Regions from separate parts of the Homo sapiens genome. Here region 2 is linked to region 1. Evidence: fine-mapped expression QTL. A gene starts in region 1. The other region holds a variant in brackets. All regions are shown on one strand. Distances are from middle to middle.

Region 1 (4,386 bases):
TAGAAATCCCACCTCTTACTGGCTAGGGCTGGCGGCAGAAGGGGACAGTGAGCCAAGGGAGGGCTCAGTCTCTCTCCCCCTTGTGCTCCACCTGGTGGTGGCTGCGTTGATGAAGGAGCAGTAAGCGTCTCTGGCCAAAGGCCTGGCCGCAGCTGGAGCATCGGTGCCAGGCAGTCGCCTGGCTGCCGGGCGCGGTTGGGGGGTCGTGACATAGGCGATGGGCGGCCAGCTTGGAGGGAAATGAGAAAGCCTTGGGGCAATGCGGGCAAGGATAGGGGCGGGCGTCGGTGGCGTGGTGCGTGTGGCGGTGGGCCGCCAGCTTGGAAGGGTAGCAGAAGGACTTGGGGCAGTCGGGGCACGGGTAGGGGCGGGTGGGTGCGTGGGTCCAGAGGTGAGCCGCCAGCTTGGAGCGGTGGCCAAAGGACTTCGGGCAGTGTGGGCACGGGTGCGGGCGGGCGCCGCTGTGCGTGAGGCGGTGGGCTGCCAGCTTGGAGGGGTAGGAGAAGGCCTTGGGGCAGTCTGGGCATGGGTGGGGTCGGGCGCCTCCGTGTGCTAAGCGGTGCGTGGCCAGCTTGGACGGGTACGAGAAGGCCTTGTCACAGTCGGGGCAGCGGTGCGGGCGCTGGGGCGGGGGCCGCCGGCGAGGCCGGGGAGGCGAGCCCGCGGACGCGGTGGGCCCTGGAGCTGACTGGCTGGGCTTCTGCGGTGGGCCCTGGTGGGGAGCTGGGGGACAGGAGGGCTGGTGGGCTCCAGGAAGCAGCCAACGCCCTGGGCCTAGGCCAGGCTCCGCCACGACTTTGATATTCGTGGGGCTCCTCCAAGTGTACCTGGGCACCTCAAGCATCACATTGAGACTCCCCAAATTGCATGTTTCTGCTCCCCCCTCCCCCCAGGCGTCATTCTGAGGGACTCCAAAGGGTTACTTTCCTGGATCCCCAAAGCTACTAAGGCTTCCTCAAAGCTACCAAGGTATCCGTTTCTAGTATCTTCCCAGTGATCACCCTGACATCCCGCATGTCATCCCTGACCCGTCCCTTCTGTAAGGCTCATTTCCTGAGCCTTAGCAAATGGTCACTGAGGCTCTCTCTGAGCCAAATGGGAGGATTTCCCAGAATGTGGCAGTTTTGGGGATCCCAAATAGTCATCACCCTAGGGCCCTCAAATTTTCACCCTGAGATTCCCCCAGAATGTGATTATTTTGGCCCCCGTTCCTGGAGAATGCTCCCTACTCACAGGCGGGGCACTCTCACCTTCTTTGGTCACTGGTTCCTTGCCAGTGGGACTAGGATCGGTAGCCCCGGCCGCGGACTCCGCGCCTCGCTCCAGCATCTTGCTGGCACAGGAACCTAGGGGCAGGGCGCGGGGCGGGGGTGACGCCGGTGATGACCAGGCTGATGGGGATAGGGTTGGAGGGCCTAAAATGAGGGATCACACTGTTTAGGAGCAAGGTCTGCAAGTATGGGATGCTAAGGCGGGGGCAGGCTTAGCGGGGAGGCGGAGCCTAAGAGCACAGTGAGCGGGGCTATGCAAATTCAAGCCAGAGGCAGTCCCTTCGCTATCTAAACCCAGGGTTGGAGTCTTTCAGCAGAGTGGGCGGAGTCTCCACAACTAACTCAGCGGCCGTCTTAAGCGCGGAGCCGGCGGGGCCTATGCGCAGAGTGGGCGGGACCTTCCCCACCAGACCCTGCAGTCCTGGAATGGGCGGGGCTGTACAAAAAAAGTCTTGTTCTGAAACTAGACCCAGGGGGCGGGGGCCTTCGAGCGGAGTGGGCAGGTCTTTCATCACCGTCCCAGGGGAGGGGCCTATGGGCACAGTGGGCGGGGCTTCACGTCGAAGACCTAGCTTTACCCGGCTTTTGACTTAGTCTCAGTTCATTGACGCCGCGTCAACTGCGCCCTTCTTGCCGTTAAATTTCATCCCTGGCTTGGATGGGGCCGTGGAGGATAGAGGGGGGACCTGGAGGAAGATACGGAAGGAACCTGGCATGCGTCGCGGTCCAGAGACCCCTAATGGACTTTTCCCTCAGAGTCCCAAGCGTAAAGGATTCAATGCACCCCTCGGAATCAGACATTCAGGCACCGATGCACCCTCCCGAGGCTCTGGCACCAATGCACAGTCCCTCCAGCATCTCCAGAATCTAGGCGTCCGGACCACAACCGATCTCCCTCGGGGTGATTCTGGCATTCAGCCTGCAAGCCAATATCCGCGCCCGAACCCCTGCGCCCTCACCTGCAGGACGGCCCCTCCCCGGGGGCGGGGCTTCCGGCTCCTCCCGCCACGGCCACGGCCGCAGCCGCTGTCGCCGCTGCTGCACTGCCCTCGGACCAGCGGAGCTGCCCCGCCCGGCGCGCGTCCGGCGTCGGGGGAGGGCAGGCAAGGGAGCGCGCGCAAGCTGCTTAGCCCAACCTCATTTCCATCCCCTCCTCCCACGCTGGACCAAAGGGGGCGTCAGAAAGCATGCGCAGTGCGGGCTGGCAGAGGCTGCAGAGAGGGGGAAGAAGGAATGGAAGGAGGGGCTGGGTGCGCCAGCCAGGCAGGCAAGTTCGTGAGCAAGCGCGAAGCTACCGTATCGACAGAAAGTGCACCGCCGGTGGCGGGGCCTACGGTGGCTGACTGGAGTCAAGCATGTACAAGACTAACATGGACAAACTGCGCTTGGAAATCAGTGCATGCACCCGTCTTTTTAATGTCCCTCTTCTTTTCGAGAATTCCGCTGAGTTCCATCTCCAGAGGCAGTTTCAAGAGCTCGCTGCTAATTCTACCCTTCAAGGCGTTTGCAAAAAGTCTGGCCAGTTCTTCGAGAGAGGGCGGGGGCGGGACTCCGGGCTCAAAGAGAGCCAGTGCCCAATAAAAGGCACGTTATTTGCACAGCGCCTTGGCACACCTCGCTATTGGGTGATTCAAGATTCTCAGCCACGCACCCATCTACCTTCCCCCTCGGAAGCCTGGGTGGTCCCGAGGTGCCCTGGCCCATGCTCTTGGTGCCAGGCCTGGGGTGGCATGCAGCTTAGCATTCTTCCCGAGCAGTGGCGGTGCACCTTCCTGCCTGGTGCAGAAAGGACCAGGAAATGCCCATAAAAGTCCTCTGCATGGGTGGGTCTCAGTCCGATAACCCGCAAGGTCTGGCGATCCCTGGGAGTTTGGCGGGGTTATTTGGACTCTGGAGCCAGATTGCCTGGGTAACTGGTTTGGAATACGGCTGTGCCACTTTCTAGCCGTGTGACCCTTTCTAGCTCTCTTTCTAGGCCTGTTTCCTCATCTATAAAATGGAGCGTTTTTAGGATTAAATATGATAATCAATGGAAAGTGTTTAGACTAGAAAGTGCCTAGGCCGGGCTCCCTGTCTCATGCCTGTAATCCCAGCACTCTGGGAGGCAGAGGCGGGCGAATCACTTGAGCCCAGGATTTCCAAACTAGACGGGGGCTAGGCACGGTGGCTCACGCCTGTAATCCCAGCACTTTGGGAGGCGGAGGTGGACGGATCACCTGACGTCAGGAGTTCGAGACCAGCCTGGCCAACATGGTGAAAACCCGTCTCTACTAAAAATACAAAAATTAGTCAGGCATGGTGGCACACGCTTGTAATCTCAGCTACTCCGGAGGCTGAGGTGGGAGGATGGCTTGAACCTGGGAGGCAGAGGTTGCAGTGAGCCAAGATCAAGCCACTGCACTCCAGCCTGGGCAACAGAGTGAGACTCCGTCTCAAAAAAACAAAAAAACCAAAAACCCAAACAAACAAAAATCCCAGCCTAGGCAACATAGTGAGACACCTCCCCATCTTAAAAAAAAAAAAAAAAAAAAAAAAAAAGTCTGGCTTAATGGCAGCCTGTAGTCCCAGCTATTTCACGGGGGTAGGGAGTGGGGACTCACCCAGGAGTTCATGTCTGCAATGAGCTATGATTGTGTTACTGCATTCCAGCCTGCGCAACAGAGTGATACCCCGTATCTTTAAAAAAAAAGTTTTTAAAATAATTATTCACTCATGACCAGTATTGTTTGATTTACCCCCCATCCACTCTTCCCAAATGATTCTGAAGCTAAATGTCAAACATCATATCTCATAAATATCTTTTTATTACACTTGATTTGCTTGACTTAAGATCTAAATGAGCTCCACACATTGTATTAGTTTGAAGTGACACTTCGGTCTCTCTCTCTCTCTTTTTTTTGAGATGGAATCTCGCTGTGTCCCCCAGGCTGGAGTGCAGTGGCGCAATCTTGGCTCACTGCAACCTCTGCCTCCCGAGTTCAAGCGATTCTCCTGCTTCAGCCTCCCAAGTAGCTGGGATTACAGGTGTTCACCACAACACCCAGCTAATTTTTGTATTTTTAGTAGAGACAGGGTTTCACCATGTTGGCCAGGCTGGTCTCGATCTCCTGACCTC
Region 2 (4,386 bases), 35 kb before region 1:
TCCACGTCAGAGACCCTTTGGAATGACTGATTGCATCTGGCAATGACTAATTTGTGGGGTTACTCTGGATTCATCAAATGCTAATTTTGATTCTTTTGACGTAACTGATAAAGGCAGACATTTCTGGCCACCAAGGCAGTAGGCTTATCTCTGGGTTGTTATGTTATGTTTTGAGACAGGGTCTCACTCTCTTGCCCAGGTTGGAGTGCAGTTGCAAAGTCATGGCTCACTGTAGCCTCAACCTCCTGGGCTCAGGCAATCCTCCCACCTCAGCCTCCCAGATAGCTGGGACTACAGGCGTGTGCCGCCAGGCCCAGCTAATTTTAAAAATTTTTCGTAGAGATGGGGTCTCACTATGTTGCCCAGCCTGGTCTCGGACTCCTGAGCTCAAGCAGTCCTCCTGTCTTGGCCTCCCAAAGTGCTGGCATTACAGGCATGAGCCACTGCACCTGGCCACATCTGTGGGTTCTTCTACTACCCTGCATTTTCTCCTCTAATTATTGTTATGCAAAATCTCGATCTTACCACATGGGGCTTAGCCATCTGCTTATGACAGCCCCACACACCTGGTTGTTTGCAGTAGCCACAGCAGGCTCTGTTGTCTGTTCATCACCTGCTCCCAGAGGGAAATGCCAACCTCTTTGCTAACTACTCCTGGGCTGGAGGGGTGGCTTGGACAAGACCCAGATATAACTCTGGTGTGTCACTGGAGGTGTGTCATTTTTAGAAGAAATGTTCATCAGCAATAGGGCCTATGGTCATTTTTGATTGTTATTGGTTTTCTAATCACTCAGTTCGCCACTGTGGTGTCTTAAATTTGTTTTTACTGTTTTTTGATGTGTAACATACATAGAGTGAAGTGAAGGTGTAAGTAAGAGTACAGCTCAGTGACTCTTTGCAAACTGCAGCCCTGTGTACTCCACACCCAGATGCAGCACAGAACATGCCTAGCCCCCAGCAGTTCCCTCAGGTTCTTTCTGTCAGTACCCCTGCAAGGGTAACCACTGTCCTGATTGTTAACAGCATAGATTCATTTTGCCTGATTTTGAATTGCATATAAAATGGAATCGTGTGGTATAAACTTTTCTTATCTGGCTTCCCTTGTTATGTTTGTTCATTTCATCTATGTCGTTCAGTGTAGCTGTAGATGATTTATTGTGATTTTTTTTTTTTCTGAGACGGAGTTTCGTCTTGTTGTTCTGGCTGGAGTGCAATGGCACAATCTCAGCTCACTGCAACCTCCGCCTCCCAGGTTCAAGTGGTTCTCTTGCCTCAGCCTCCCAAGTAGCTGGGATTACAGGCATGCACCACCACGCCTGGCTAATTTTTTGTATTTAGTAGAGACAGGTTTTCACCATGTTGGTCAGGCTGGTCTCGAACTCCTGACCTCTAGTGATCCACCTGCCTTGGCCTCCCAAAGTGCTGGGATTACAGGCATGAGCCACTGTGCTCGACTCCTATTGTCTTTTTTTTTTTTTTTTGAGACAGGGTCTCACTATGTTGCCCAGGCTGGAGTGCAGTGGCACCATCTCAGCTCACTACAGGCTCGACCTCCCGGGCTCAAGCGATCCTCCCACCTCAGCCTCCTCAGTAGTTGGGACTACAGGCATGTGCCAGTTCACCAGTCTAATTTTTGTATTTTTTTTGCAGAGATGGGGGTCTCACTGTGTTGTCTAGGCTGGTCTTGAACTCCTGGACTCAAGCATTCCTCCTGCCTCAGCTTCTTAAATCCTTGGGATTACAGACATGAGCCACTGCACCTGGCCTATTGTCATTTCTGTATAGTATTCTGTTGTATTGAGATAACTATTATGGTTTTATTTATTTATATTTGATTTT[C/T]TTTTTTAAACGGAGTCTCACTATGTTGCCAAGGCTGGTCTTGAACTGTTGATCTCAGGTGATCCCCCAACTTGGCCTCCTGAGTAGCTAGGACTATAGGTGCACACCACCACACCCAACTAATTTTTTTTTTTTTTTTTAAGCTTTTTGGAGGCAGCTTCCTGAGTAGCTGGGATTACAGGGATTACAGACAGAGCCACAAAGACCTGGCCATTGGGGTTTTATTATATTTGCTTTCTGAATGGGTATTATATGCATATAGTGCAAAATTCAAAAGGTGCAAAAGGGTATACACTAAAAAGAAAATCTCCCCTCACCCTTTCCATCCCTCCCTGCTCCCTCCCCAACTCCTGCTCCCTCCCCAACTCCTGCTCCCTCATTCTTCTCTCCTGATGCAACCACCATTAGCAGTTTTTTTGGGTGGTCTTCCTGGGTCATTCTGTACACATACAAGCATATATACCTACCGCCTCCATCCCTTTTTAAAAAATTCATAGTATATACACTGTTCCCTTGTGTGTTTTTTTTCAAGTAACAGTGTATTTTGGAGATGCACACTGCATGAAGTTCTACCTTATTTATTTATTTATTTATTTACTTACTTACTTACTTACTTACTTTGAGACAGAATCTCGCTCTGTCACTCAGGCTGGAGTGTAGTAGTGCGATCGTGGCTCACTGCAACCTCCCCCTCCCAGCTTCAAGTGATTCTCCTGCCTCAATCTCCCTAGTAGCTGGGATTACGGGCACATGCCACCAGGCTTGGCTAATTTTTGTATTTTTGGTAGAGATGGGGTTTCCCCATGTTAGCCAGGCTGGTCTTGAATTCCTGACCTCAAGTGATCCTCCTGCCTTGGCCTCCCAAAGTGTTGGGATTACAGGCGTCAGCCACGCCGTGCGCAGCCTACCTTATTCTTTTAAATGATGCATACAATTGCATTTCATGGCCGGGCGCGGTGGCTCACGCCTGTAATCCCAGCACTTTGGGAGGCTGAGGCAGGTGGATCACGAGGTCAGGTGTTCAAGACCAGCCTGGCCAAGATGGTGGAACCCTGTCTCTACTAAAAATATAAAAATTAGCCAGGTGCAGTGGTGGGCACCTGTAATCCCAGCTACCTGGGAGGCTGAGGCAGGAGAATTGTTTGAACCCGGGAGGCGGAGGTTGCAGAGAGCCGAGATCGTGCCACTGTACTCTAGCCTGGGTGACAGAGCAAGACTCTGTCTCAAAAAAAAAAAAAAAAGAAAAGATTGCATTTCATGGATGTGAAACAGTTTTTTAGCAATATATCTCAGGAACTTTGCCTTCCTGTGCCATGTTTGTTTCAGGAACAGTTCATATCAGAACTGTGTCTCCCTGAGAAAGCTGCATGCACACGAACCCAGGCCATCGGTGATAGTCATCTTGTGCTCTTATCCTCACAGCTGATACATACTGAGCACTCATCTCTTATTTTGAGAAAAATTCACATAAAATTTACTGTTTTAACCATTTAAAGTGCACATTTCAGCCAGATGCGGTAGCTCACACCTGTAATCCCAGCACTTTGGGAGGCCAAGGCGGGTGGATTGCTTGAGGTCAGGGATTCGAGACTAGGCTGGCCAACATGGTGAAACCCCATCTCTACTGAAAATACAAAAATTAGCCGGGGGTGGTGGTGCGTGCCTGTAGTCCCAGCTATTCGGGAGGCTGAGGCAAGAGAATCACTTGAACTGGAAGGCAGAGTTTGCAGTGAGCTGAGATTGCACCACTGCACTCCAGCCTGGGCAACAGAGTGAGACTCCGTCTCAACAAAAAACATAAATAAATAAATAAATAAAGTGCACATTTCAGGGTTTTTTTTTTTTTTTTAGCATATTGACAATGTTCTTCAACCATCTCCATTCTCTAATTCAGAATATTTTCATCACTCCAAAAAGAAACCACATAACCATTAAACAGTCACTTCTTATTCTCTCCCCAATGTTGCCCTTGGCAACCACTGATCTACTTTCTGCTTCTCTGGATTTGCGTATTCTGGACTTATAAATGTATACGTGGTCTTTTACACTTAACCTTGTTACACTTTGCATAATGTTTCTGAGGTTCATCCATGTTGTAGCATATATCACAACTTCAGTTTTTTAAATAACTGGATGATATTCCATAAATATACTGTACAATGTTTATCTATTCATCAACTGATGGACATTTATTGGGTTGTTACCATGTATATATAAACCTTTTTTTTTTTTTTTTTTTGAGATTGAGTCTTGCTCTGTTGCCCAGGCTGGAATGCAGTGGTGCAATCTCGGCTCACTGCAACCTCTGCTTCCCAGGTTCAAGTGATTCTCGTGCCTCAGTCTCCTGAGTAGCTGGGACTACAGGCGCATGCCACCATGCCCAACTAATTTTTCTGTTTTTAGTAGAGACGGGGTTTCGCCGTGTTGCCCAGGTTGGTCTTGAACTCCTGGGCTCAAGAAATCCACCTGCCTTGGCCTCCCAAAGTGTTGGGATTACAGGCGTGAGCCACCACCCCAGCCTCCATGTATAAACATTTTTATCAGATT

Evidence for each region. PIP is the estimated chance that this variant, and not a neighbour inherited with it, causes the effect.
Region 2: its variant is the best candidate, but not a certain one, in a credible set for the expression of ZNF575 in whole blood (INTERVAL, PIP 0.85).

Annotation. Positions count from the first base shown.
Region 1 is chr19:43,531,366-43,535,751 of GRCh38, reverse strand. It overlaps ZNF575 (zinc finger protein 575), which reads right to left and starts at 2,564. Exons shown (of 4, transcript NM_174945.3): 1 at 2,231-2,564; 2 at 1,850-1,957; 3 at 1,251-1,415; 4 at 1-723. The coding sequence starts at 1,329. The coding sequence ends at 65. RefSeq lists a silencer at 2,149-2,458.
Region 2 is chr19:43,566,571-43,570,956 of GRCh38, reverse strand. All of the region lies in intron 2 of XRCC1 (X-ray repair cross complementing 1), which reads left to right. Among named protein-coding and RNA genes, the nearest start is that of XRCC1, 6.8 kb to the left of the region's middle. The variant C/T (reference allele first, on the strand shown) is at 1,840.